3 linked regions of the Homo sapiens genome follow. The protein of the gene in region 3 purifies or fractionates together with the protein of the main gene of each other region. This does not show direct contact. Each region holds a gene or a part of one and is shown on either strand. Other genes may lie near its edges. The genes, in order: XPO4, NDUFC2 and GPR34.

Evidence for each region.
Region 1: the proteins of GPR34 (region 3) and XPO4 purify together in Homo sapiens (affinity purification with mass spectrometry; one large-scale study listed by BioGRID and IntAct). This does not show direct contact.
Region 2: the proteins of GPR34 (region 3) and NDUFC2 purify together in Homo sapiens (affinity purification with mass spectrometry; one large-scale study listed by BioGRID and IntAct). This does not show direct contact.

The regions. Positions count from the first base shown.
Region 1 is NC_000013.11:20,892,657-20,896,313, forward strand, and holds part of XPO4 (exportin-4), read right to left. Parts: intron 1-3,657. UniProt on the Homo sapiens protein: Mediates the nuclear export of proteins (cargos), such as EIF5A, SMAD3 and isoform M2 of PKM (PKM2). In the nucleus binds cooperatively to its cargo and to the GTPase Ran in its active GTP-bound form.
Region 2 is NC_000011.10:78,069,735-78,073,391, forward strand, and holds part of NDUFC2 (NADH dehydrogenase [ubiquinone] 1 subunit C2), read right to left. Parts: intron 3,408-3,657; coding exon 3,264-3,407; intron 303-3,263; coding exon 253-302; 3' UTR 177-252; coding exon of another isoform or gene 139-176; 3' UTR 1-138. Other genes in the region: NDUFC2-KCTD14 (NADH dehydrogenase [ubiquinone] 1 subunit C2, isoform 2), read right to left, coding at 3,264-3,407.
Region 3 is NC_000023.11:41,691,927-41,694,984, reverse strand, and holds part of GPR34 (probable G-protein coupled receptor 34), read right to left. Parts: intron 1-3,058.

The sequences.
Region 1 (3,657 bases), on a different chromosome or scaffold from region 3:
GTTATAAAAGAACTACCAATAACTTGAGACCACCCTGGGCAATACAGCAAGATTTCGTCTCTACAAAAACATTGTAACATAGCCAGGTGTGGTGGCGTGCACCTGTGGTCCCACCTACTCGGGAGGCTAAAGGGGGAGGATCGCTTCAGCCCAGGAGTTTGAGGCTGCAGTGAGTCATGATCACACCACTGCATTCCAGCTGGGTTTTAGAGTAACTCCAAAAAGTAAAAAATAAAAAAAAAAAAATAAAAGAACTACACTGTTATAAAAGGACAGGTGAATCTCACCTTTCAGGCAGGCTAAGGAAGGCTTCCCTGAGAAACTGACTACTGAGAGAACTGAAGGATGAAGTGACAGGGAAGAAAAGCATTCCAGACAGAAGGACTAGTATATGAGAGGCCCTGTGACAGGACACAGGACACAAGTGGGAAGGGTTGCAAAAAAGCTAGTGTGGCTGATGAAGAGAAAAAGCGACTGGAAAAGAGTCAACAGAAGCTGGAAAGGCAGTAACTTATCCAAAGCCTCACAAGGTGCAAACATTTTTAAAGAAAAATGCTTTATATTTCACAACACTTAATGGCACTTTTCCCCTGCTTTTTGTGAACAAGAGGCCTTACATTTTCATTTTCACTGGGCCCTGCAAATTATGTAGGTAGCCCTGGCTGGACAACAAAGACAGTGGACAGAAACAGTCTTATGGCTCGGATACAAGGCAGAGGCCACCCACTCACTATACTGACCCTTCAGACCCACTAAGAAAGACAAAAAAGATGAGGATATGGAATGAAACACGGTCTCCATGGCCAAGCACGGTGGCTCATGCCTGTAATCCCAGCACTTTGGGAGGCCGAGGTGGGAGGATCACGAGGTCAGGAGTTCGAGACCAGTCTAGCCAACATGGTGAAACTCCCTCACATGGTGAAACCCCGTCTCTACTAAAAATACAAAAATTAGCCGGGCATGGTGGCACGTGCCTGTAATCCCAGGAACACAGGAGGCCAAGTCAGGAGAATTGCTTGAACCTGGGAGGCGGAGGTTGCGGAGGTTGCAATGAGCCTAAACGTGCATTGCGCCACTGCACTCCTGGCTGACAGGGTGAGACTCTGTCTCAAAAAAAAAAAAAAAGAAAGAAACATGGCCTCCTAAATTAGAACCTCCGTAGGTAAGGCAAAGGAAACTGCAGTTTTTTGTTTTGTTTTGTTTTTGAAACAGAGTTCGCTCTTGTTGCCCAGGCTGGAGTGCAATGGCATGATCTTGGCTCACTGCATTCTCCGCCTCCCGGGTTCAAGTGATTCTCCTGCCTCAGCCTCCCGAGTAGCTGGGAATACAGGCATGCGCCACCACACCAGCTAATTTTGTATTTTTAGTAGAGACAGGGTTTCTCCATGTTGGTCAGGCTGGTCTCGAACTCCCAACCTCAGGTGATCTGCCCGCCTCAGCCTCCCAAAGTGCTGGGATTACAGGTGTAAGCCACGGTGTCCAGCCAGAAATCTGCAGTTTTAATAATCACCCTAAGATTGGTTATGCATGTTCTAAACTCTGAAAAACCCTTCTCTAAAATATTGTCAAATTACAATGGACCTAATTTTTCCCATAATTACAAACAGAGAAAGAGTGAATCCCTATCTCTTTTTCAGAATAAAGTTTATTAGTTTTCTATTAGCTCTTTCTCACTCAAAAGACATTTTTCCTTTTATTTATTCACAAGGTTATATTATACTTAGCAGTGATTAAACAAATCTGTGGAAATGGAATGCCCTGCATTTGCATTTATAAGTCTATAAATGCAAAACCACAAACCTAGTCTTAGTCTGAACCATGATACAGCTTTGAACATTCTTCAACATAAAAATAATTGCAGGACATTCAAGGAAGTAGATTTTAAAAGTAGATTTTTTTTTTGGCCGGGTGTGGTGGCTCACGTCTATAATCCCAGCACTTTGGGAGGCCAAGGCAGGTGGATCACCTGAGGGTCAGGAGTTCAAGACCAGCCTGGCCAACATGGTAAAACCCCGTCTCTACTAAAAATACAAAAAATTAGCCAGGCATCATGGCAGGCACCTGTAAATCCCAGCTACTGGGGAGGCTAAGGCAGGAGAATCACTTGAACCCAGGAGGTGTAGGTTGCAGTGAGCCGAGATGGCGCCATTGCACTCCAGCCTGGGCAACAAGAGTGAAACTTCATCTCAAAGAAAAAAAAAAAAAAAGGTAGATTTTTTTAAAACACATGCAACATTCAGGCTGGGTGTGGTATCTCACGCCTGTAATCCCAGCATTCTGGAAGGCCGAGGCGAGCGGATCACCTGAGGTCAGGAGTTTGAGAACAGCCTGGTCAACATGGTAAAATACTGTCTCTACTAAAAACACCAAAATTAGCCAGGCATGGTGGCGTGCACCTGTAGTCCCAGCTACTCTAGAGGCTGAAGCAGGATAATTGCTTGAACCCGGGAGGCAGGGGTGGCAGGGAGCCGAGATTGCGCCACTGCACTCCAGCCTAGGCAACAGAGTGAGACTCCATCTCAAAGAAAAGAAAATAGAAATGCATGCAACATTCAAATTTACTAAAACGGAGTATTAATTTATGGTCTAAATTTTTATATTGTAAAAAATTCAAACTATATTAAAACTATATTAAGCACTCCTCCCATGTGCAATCTCATTCCCTATGCAGCCATTCTTAGAAGTTTAGTATAGGCCAGGCACAGTGGCTCACAGCTGTAATCCTAGCACTTTGGGAGGCTGAAGCTGGCAGATCACCTGTGATCAGAAGTTCAAAACCAGCCTGGCCAACAAGGTGAAACCCTGTCCCTACTACAAACACAAAAATTAGCTGGGTGTGGTGGTGCATGCCTGTAATCCTAGCTACTCGGGAGGCTGAGGAAGGAGAATCACTTGAACCTGAGAGGCAGAAGTTGCAGTGAGCCGAGATCGCACCATTGCACTCCAGCCTGGGTGACAGAGCAAGACTCTGTCTCAAAAAAAAAAAAAGAAGTTTAGTATAAGCCTTCCATTTCCGTTTCTATGCATATACAAATATATACAGAACTTTTTCTAGAAAACAGAAATGGGATCATATATTCTATTCTGCAATTTTTCGTCTTATTTTGAGTATCTTTCCATGTTCATTCAGATCTTCCCATTTAAAAAAAAAGCTATCACATTTTAGATATACCATATTTTTTAAGAGTTCCATAAAATTCCATTATAAAGAATACCAGTATATTAAATCAATTTGGTGTAACTGGACATTTACGTTGTTTCAATCTTCACTACAGCAAAGTACACTACAGTAAACATTCTTTGTGTATAAGCAAGTATTTCCATAAACTGAATAAATGGCCAGAAGTGAAATAGCTGGGGGTCAGCTATATATTGAAGGCTCTTGTATCGAAAACTTGTAGCATACTTCCCTATACCTTTACAATGTGAAATAACATTTTATTCTTAGTTCTGTTTCTAGACTATTCTAACTTTCTATTCTTTTCCTATGCCAATGCTATGTTTCAATTACTTTAGCTTCTGAATACATTGTAATAGTTGCTACATCAAGTCCCCAAACCCTTCACAGACTTCCAGATATATTTTCTAATCAATTAATTTTTCTCCCACCTCAGAAAAGGGTGAGGAGGAAAGAGAGATTTTGATTGACATTATATT
Region 2 (3,657 bases), on a different chromosome or scaffold from region 3:
AGTCTGCTAACTCTAAACTAGAATTCAACCTCATCTTAAAATCTTTCAGATGGGTGAATGGAAACTGACCATTCTCTGATGATGAACTATTTTTCTTACAACAATAAAGAGTCAGAGTACTCATGGTACGTATTTTAATTACAAGGTGTCAACATACAGATTAGCATAAGCTTCAACTGTCATAAGAAACATGTTCCATCAAATTCAGAAACAGCAGGTATCAGTGAAACTGGAGCAAGCATTTTGAAGACTTCAACGTATTGGATGGAATTTTTCAAAAATTTCACCATATGTTTTCTTATCTATAAAAGGAAAGATCATAAAAGATTTATTTTAAAAATATGTTTTAAAAATTGTATTTCCTAAACGAAAATTAACACTCACTAATCTTATGATTGAAATCCTGCTGTGGTCTGAATGTTCATGTCCCCCCAAAGTTCATAAATTGAAATGTAACCCCCAAGATAACGATATTAAGAGGTTAGGACTTTGGGAGGTGATTAGGTCACAAAGGCTCTGTCCTCATGAGGGGGATCGGCTTAGGGGACCTTGTTTGCCTCTTCTACCATGTGAGGACACAGCAAGATGGCATCATCTATGAAGCAGAGTGGGCCCTCAGCAGACACCAACTGTGCTGGTACCCTGATCTTGGACTTCCCAGCCTCCAGAATTGCAAGCAATAAATTTCTATTACTTATATATTACCCAGTCTATTCTGCAATTATACAGGTGGTAAGAAAAACAAAGTTAAAAAATTTTTTTTAATTACCCAGTTTAAGGCATTTTGTTATAGTAGGCCAAACGGACTAAGACAAACCCCTAAGAATTTCCTTATTTTCTTGTCCTTGACTATGGCTTGGTAATCACTGAAGGATTTTCTTTCATTGACTGAAGAATAACTTTGGAGGAATCTGTGATGACAACCAAATGACTGCCAAGAGGGACAAGGTGCTGCCAGGAGTATCCTGACTGAAGAGGTGAAGGAAGAAATAAACACAGAGGGGCACAGGTCAGCTAGGAGAGGCCAACAGCCAATGTGGTCAAGCTCTCCGGGCTCCCACTGTCTGTGCATGAGGCTCTTGGCACAACTGCCACTAATCTGCAGCTCAGAAAGAGAATGAGCCCTGAAGCTATACACACTCCTGCAGACACAGGGAACTCATGGAACTATGTCTAGGCAAAGAGCCAGAGGTCTGAGACTGAAGACTCCTCAAGCCACTGGGCCTCACTCCTAGTAATCAATATATCCAAGATGACTTCCAGCTCTAACATTTAACGGTTCTGGGTATTATGCATTCCCGATACATCCACTATTCATGGCTTTGTGCTAGTCTTTAAGCTCTTCTTTGGCAAAAAAAGAAACTGTATCTTTCTGATCCACCATAAATATCATATATGTGACTGAAGGCTGTGGGAATATTAAAGAGTAATAAAATTTTAGAGCTAAATAAGACCTTAGAGATCATTCAGTGTAATGAAATTTAAATGTTTTATATCACGCATTTACATTAACAGAAGAATTTTTTTTTTTTTTTTTTTTTGAGACAGGGTCTCGCTCTGTCACCTAGGCTGGAATGCAGTGGTGTGATCACGGCTCACGGCACCTTGTCCTCCCAGGCTCAAGTAATCCTCCTGCCTCAGCCTCCCAAGTCAATGGGTCTATAGGCATGTGCCACCTCACCCAGCTAATTTTTTAATTTTCTGTAGAGATGAGGTCTCACTATGTTGCCGAGACTGGGGAAAATCTATTTATGTTTACAAGTTCAAATTTTTTCTATACTCATTCATTTACACATTTAATAAGGCTATGTGTGCCAAACCCCTGGGGAAACCAAAAAAAACTGTCGTAGTAGTTAAACTCCCAGCCTACAGATACTCATATATGTGCACATCTGTGTTGTGTATATGTGTGTAAAACACAGGTGAGAAAAGTTATATTACAACTATTAATAGATTCATAGCAGACTAGAGATAGAGCACCCTGAGGGAATGCCTGACTGTAGCTGGGTGAAAGCTTCACTGAGATAATAAAAGCAGAAATTTGCTAGGTGGATGGGGTGGAAACAGGGGCAAGAGGAAGAATAACATAGCAGGAAGAAGGTACAACATGTATAAAGTAATATAGGGCAGGTTCGGGACAAAGCATTTCACCAGGCAAATGATGAGTGATGAGGAATGAGGAAGTATTCCATACGGTTCATATCCACTATTATGCATAAGTAAGTGCCTGCTATGTGTAGGCTCTATACAAGAGGCTGGGGAAACAAAGACGAAGCTACAATCCATGAAGAACACACACATGTGTATATCATATGGTAGATAAGAATGTGGGTAAAGTGTTTCTACCAGAGGACAGGCAATTAGCTAACCTGGAGTAAATGAGCCATCCTAAGGAGTCTGGATTTTATCCACTAGGCAATGGATGACTTATTTATTTTATTTTAATTTTATTTTATTTTTTGAGACACAGTCTTGCTGTGACACCCAGGCTGGAGTGCAATGGCGCGATCTCAGCTCACTGCAACCTCCGCCTCCCAGGTTCAAGCGATTCTCCTGCCTCAGCCTCCCAAGTAGCTGGGCTTACAGGCACCCGCCATCATGCCCGGCTAATTTTTGTATTTCTAATAGAGACAGGGTTTCGCCATGTTGGCCAGGCTGGTCTCAAACTCCTGACCTCAGGTGATCTGCCCCGCTCGGCCCCCCAAAGTGCTGGGATTACAGGCGTGAGCCACTGCGACCAGCCGGATGACTATTTTAAACAGATGTGATCAGATTTGCTGTCATTGGAAATAAGACCAAAGCAAGTGGTGAGTTAAGAGGCAAGTGCAACAGTCCAAGCAAGAGATTAACAAGGCCTGAACCAGGGTAGTGGTAGTGGGAGAGGAGAGTTCAAAGTTAAGAAATATTTAGGAAGTAGAACTGATAAGACCTGATGACTAATGGGAAGTGAAAGAGAAAGACTTGATGATTCTCAGGCTTCTGGCTTGAGTGTCCAGGTGGACAGTAGTGCCATTCTCTGAAGCAGGACACAGAGGAGCAGGAGGTTTGGGAAGGCAGAGGGGATATGAGTTTTGTTTGCTGTCCAAAGGACACGGAGGTAGTCAGAAACTGGATATATTAATTCAAGAGAATTTTGGTCTATAGACTAAGATGTGGGAGTCAACAGAATTTAGAAGGTATCTAAAGCCATACACATGGATAAGATTAACCAGGGAAAATAATAATACAGTAAACACAGATTATCTAAAATTAACTTGAAATACCTTCTTCAGGAAAATCCTCTGGATGTAATTTCATATATCCAAACATTTCACGGTCCCTCACAGCATACAGGTAGTCTTCACGTTTTACAAGATAATATCCAGCAAAAAAAAAGGCCGTAATATATAGAAGCTGGCGATGCAAACCTGAAATTCAAATGACAAATCCCAAAGAAAGCAAAAATTAGTCCATGTGTATTAAGAGTTACATTTTTGGCTGGACGCAGTGGCTCACACCTGTAATCCCAGCACTTTGGGAGGCCAAGACAGGTGGATCACCTGAGGTCAGGAGTTCGAGACCAGCCTGGCCAACATGGTGAAACCCTGTCTCTACTAAAAATACAAAATTTGGCTGGGGGTGGTGGCGGGTGCCTGTAGTCTCAGCTACTTGGGAGGC
Region 3 (3,058 bases):
CTGGGCCCACTGCTGGCCCTGCCCAGCTTCAGAACCACTTCCTGCCTTGACTTTTTCCCTCATATGTGGCATTCATTCATTTTGACATGTATTGCTACATGGCGTGTGACTTGTGGTGGTCTCATTCTATAAGTGGGAATAAAGAAGAGGATCCTAAATTTCTTTTCAGCCTAAGACCAAGGTAGGGGTCTTAGGGCATGCAATTAACATAATAGACTAAGAGAATACAGCACCTGCAAGGTTACACAGACTCTTGTATCACTGGACAGGAGAAAAAAGTAACCAAACAAAACCAAGTTAGCTGGCAGCTGCCAGTTAGCCACTCCTAACCTAGAAGCATAGAGTAATAACGTAGATGGGAAACAGCATGTGCAATCCAAGATTTTGAAAGTAACCTGACCAAAGCTTAAATGTGCCCTGGGTTCAATAATTTGAGACTTGCTAGAACCTTCGAAGAGATAGTGTTTGAATTCTACTTGTTTGTGGCAGCAGAGAATATTTGCAAAGCTACTTATTATTGGCCCATTGACTGCTGTAAAGAGCTTAGTCTGAGAGCTGGTCATAACAAGTAAAGAAAGCATTTCTGGAGGTCTCATCACATTCCTCTCATAGAGTGACTGCCCTATTTCTCTACAGCAGCCACTTAGCAGGGTTAACATAAAGATGCCCAGAGCAAGGTTCTCAAAATCAGACCCAACTAACTTGTGACCAAGGGCAAATAACTTAATCTTTTCTATGCCTTAGTTTTCTCATTTGTGAAAATGAAAAATGCATAAGAAGAACTTAATCCTGGCACATAGTGACTGCTTAATAAAAGTTAGCTTTAATAAACACCTTTTGATTAATCTCATTTTAGTAAATATCTCACACTTGGCTAAGTACTGTGTGGGAAAGGAAGGTGAATAAGACAGAGACCCTATTAGTAAACATTTTGGAGGAGTGGACATTCAAACCCTGACTGCTACCATGCAAAGTGGATTTGAATTACATAAATTAAGTCCCTGATTTGATCTTATACACAGAGAAAAATAGCCTTTCTTAAAGCTCTACACATAATTTGATTAAAAACAAAGCATTTTGGTAGAGGGTAACATTAAGATTTAAAATGTTGTAAAGTTGGGGAGCATTGATTCCACAGAAGAGGAACTGGCTGGTGAAGAGGAAGTTATGTAATCCCTGGTAAGAGCCTGTTTCCAGAATTCAGGAAAGTGGAGGGAGAAAGGAAGGGAGCGGGGAAGGACTGAGTCTAGTCTGTCATGTGTCTCAACTGCAGGAAGACAAATTTCAGAAAGTTTATAGAAAGGTATAGGCATGTTTCTTGTGATCTAAGATTCTGGTTTTTGTTTGTTTGTTTGTTTTGTTTTGTTTTTGAGACAGAGTTTTGCTCTTGTCACCCAGGCTAGAGTGCAATGGCGTGATCTCGGCTCACTGCAACCTCCGCCCCCTGGCTTCAAGCGATTCTCCTGCCTCAGCCTCCCGAGTAGCTGGGATTACAGGCGCCCGCCACCATGCCCGGCTAATTTTTGTATTTTTAGTAGAGATGGGGTTTCACCACGTTGGCCAGGCTGGTCTCGAACTCCTGACCTCAGGTGATCTGCCCACTTCGGCCTCCCAAAGTGCTGGAATTACAGGTGTGAGCCACTATGCCCAACCTGTGATCTAAGATTCTAAAAGGAAAGGGCAATCTAGAAAGAATGTCAGGCTACCAAAAATGAAACTGATAATGCAACCTGCATTACCAGGAAAAGGAAAAGGGTGTCTGTAGAGGAACCACCTATATTGTGTGGTTATGTAGGGAGCTCTCATAGGTTCAGGGAATTGAGGCACAAGAAGTAATGTGATTTTGAGAGCTCAAGTAGCTGAAATGACGTGAAAAACTCACCTGTGAGTAGTTATTTTGGATTTTTTTTCTTCTCTCATGTTAGAATTTAAGTTCCATTAGGATTAAGAACCAAGTCAATTTTGTTCGGCTCTCTGTACCTAATGCTTAGCATAATAAATATTATTAAATCAAAGAGGGAATTTAGTAGAAATGTATATGAAGTTCTACATGTGGATATTAAAAGCAGCTGTACAAGTACAGGAAGAGCTTTAGCTGCATTAACAAACACAATTGCAATTGCTCTATCACTAGCGTAGTGTGGTGGCAACGAAAAACCCATCTTTAGTTGAATTCCTAGATACGTGATGTCTGAAATGAAAATTGTTACTACTATGCTGCTTCTGTCCCAGGCTGGTAGGGTCTCACCTGGAATGCAGTGTTTGATCCACAGCAGCACACTTAGAAAAGGCCATGGACCAAATGGAGAGAAGAACTCAAATCATGTCAAAGAAGCAAGTTGAAGGAAATAGGCACGTTACCCTGGAGATGAGAATGCTTTACAAAGCCATAGAGAAAAGGGTTTCACTTTGTTATATGTGTCTTCACAAAGCAAAACAAGAACCAATGATAGAAATTGCAGAGACAGATGTTGCCTCCTTTTAAGGAAATCATTTTTTTCTAATGAAATGATCTCTCTTGGGAGGCAATATAAGGATCTTACCACTGGAGATTTTTGAGACTACCACCAATTGGGTTCTTTGTAGAAGGGATTATCAGTGGTTCTCAATCCTGGCTGCATATTAGAATCCTCTTGAGGGTTTTTTAAAGATACCAGTGCTTGGCTCCTTCCCCAGATATTCTGATTTAATTGGTCTGGAATGGGTTTCAGGCACTGGTTTCCTTTAAAAGCTCCTTAGGGGATTTTAATGTGCAGTCAGAATTGAACTCTTAAGCTAGATGGCCAAACCATTAACTAATATTTATTTAGTACTTTCTGTGTACCAGACACTGTGTTAAACACATTTATATTACTTCCTTTACATAATTCTTGCAATACTCTGTGAGGTAGGTATCACAAAAGAGGTAATGAAAGATCAAAAGGTTGGCCAGGTACAGTGGCTCACGCCTGTAATCCCAACACTTTGGGAGACTGAGGCTGGAGAATCACTTGAGACCAGGAGTTCAAGACCAGCCTGCCAGCCAAGGCAACATAGCATGAACCTGTCTCTAAAATAA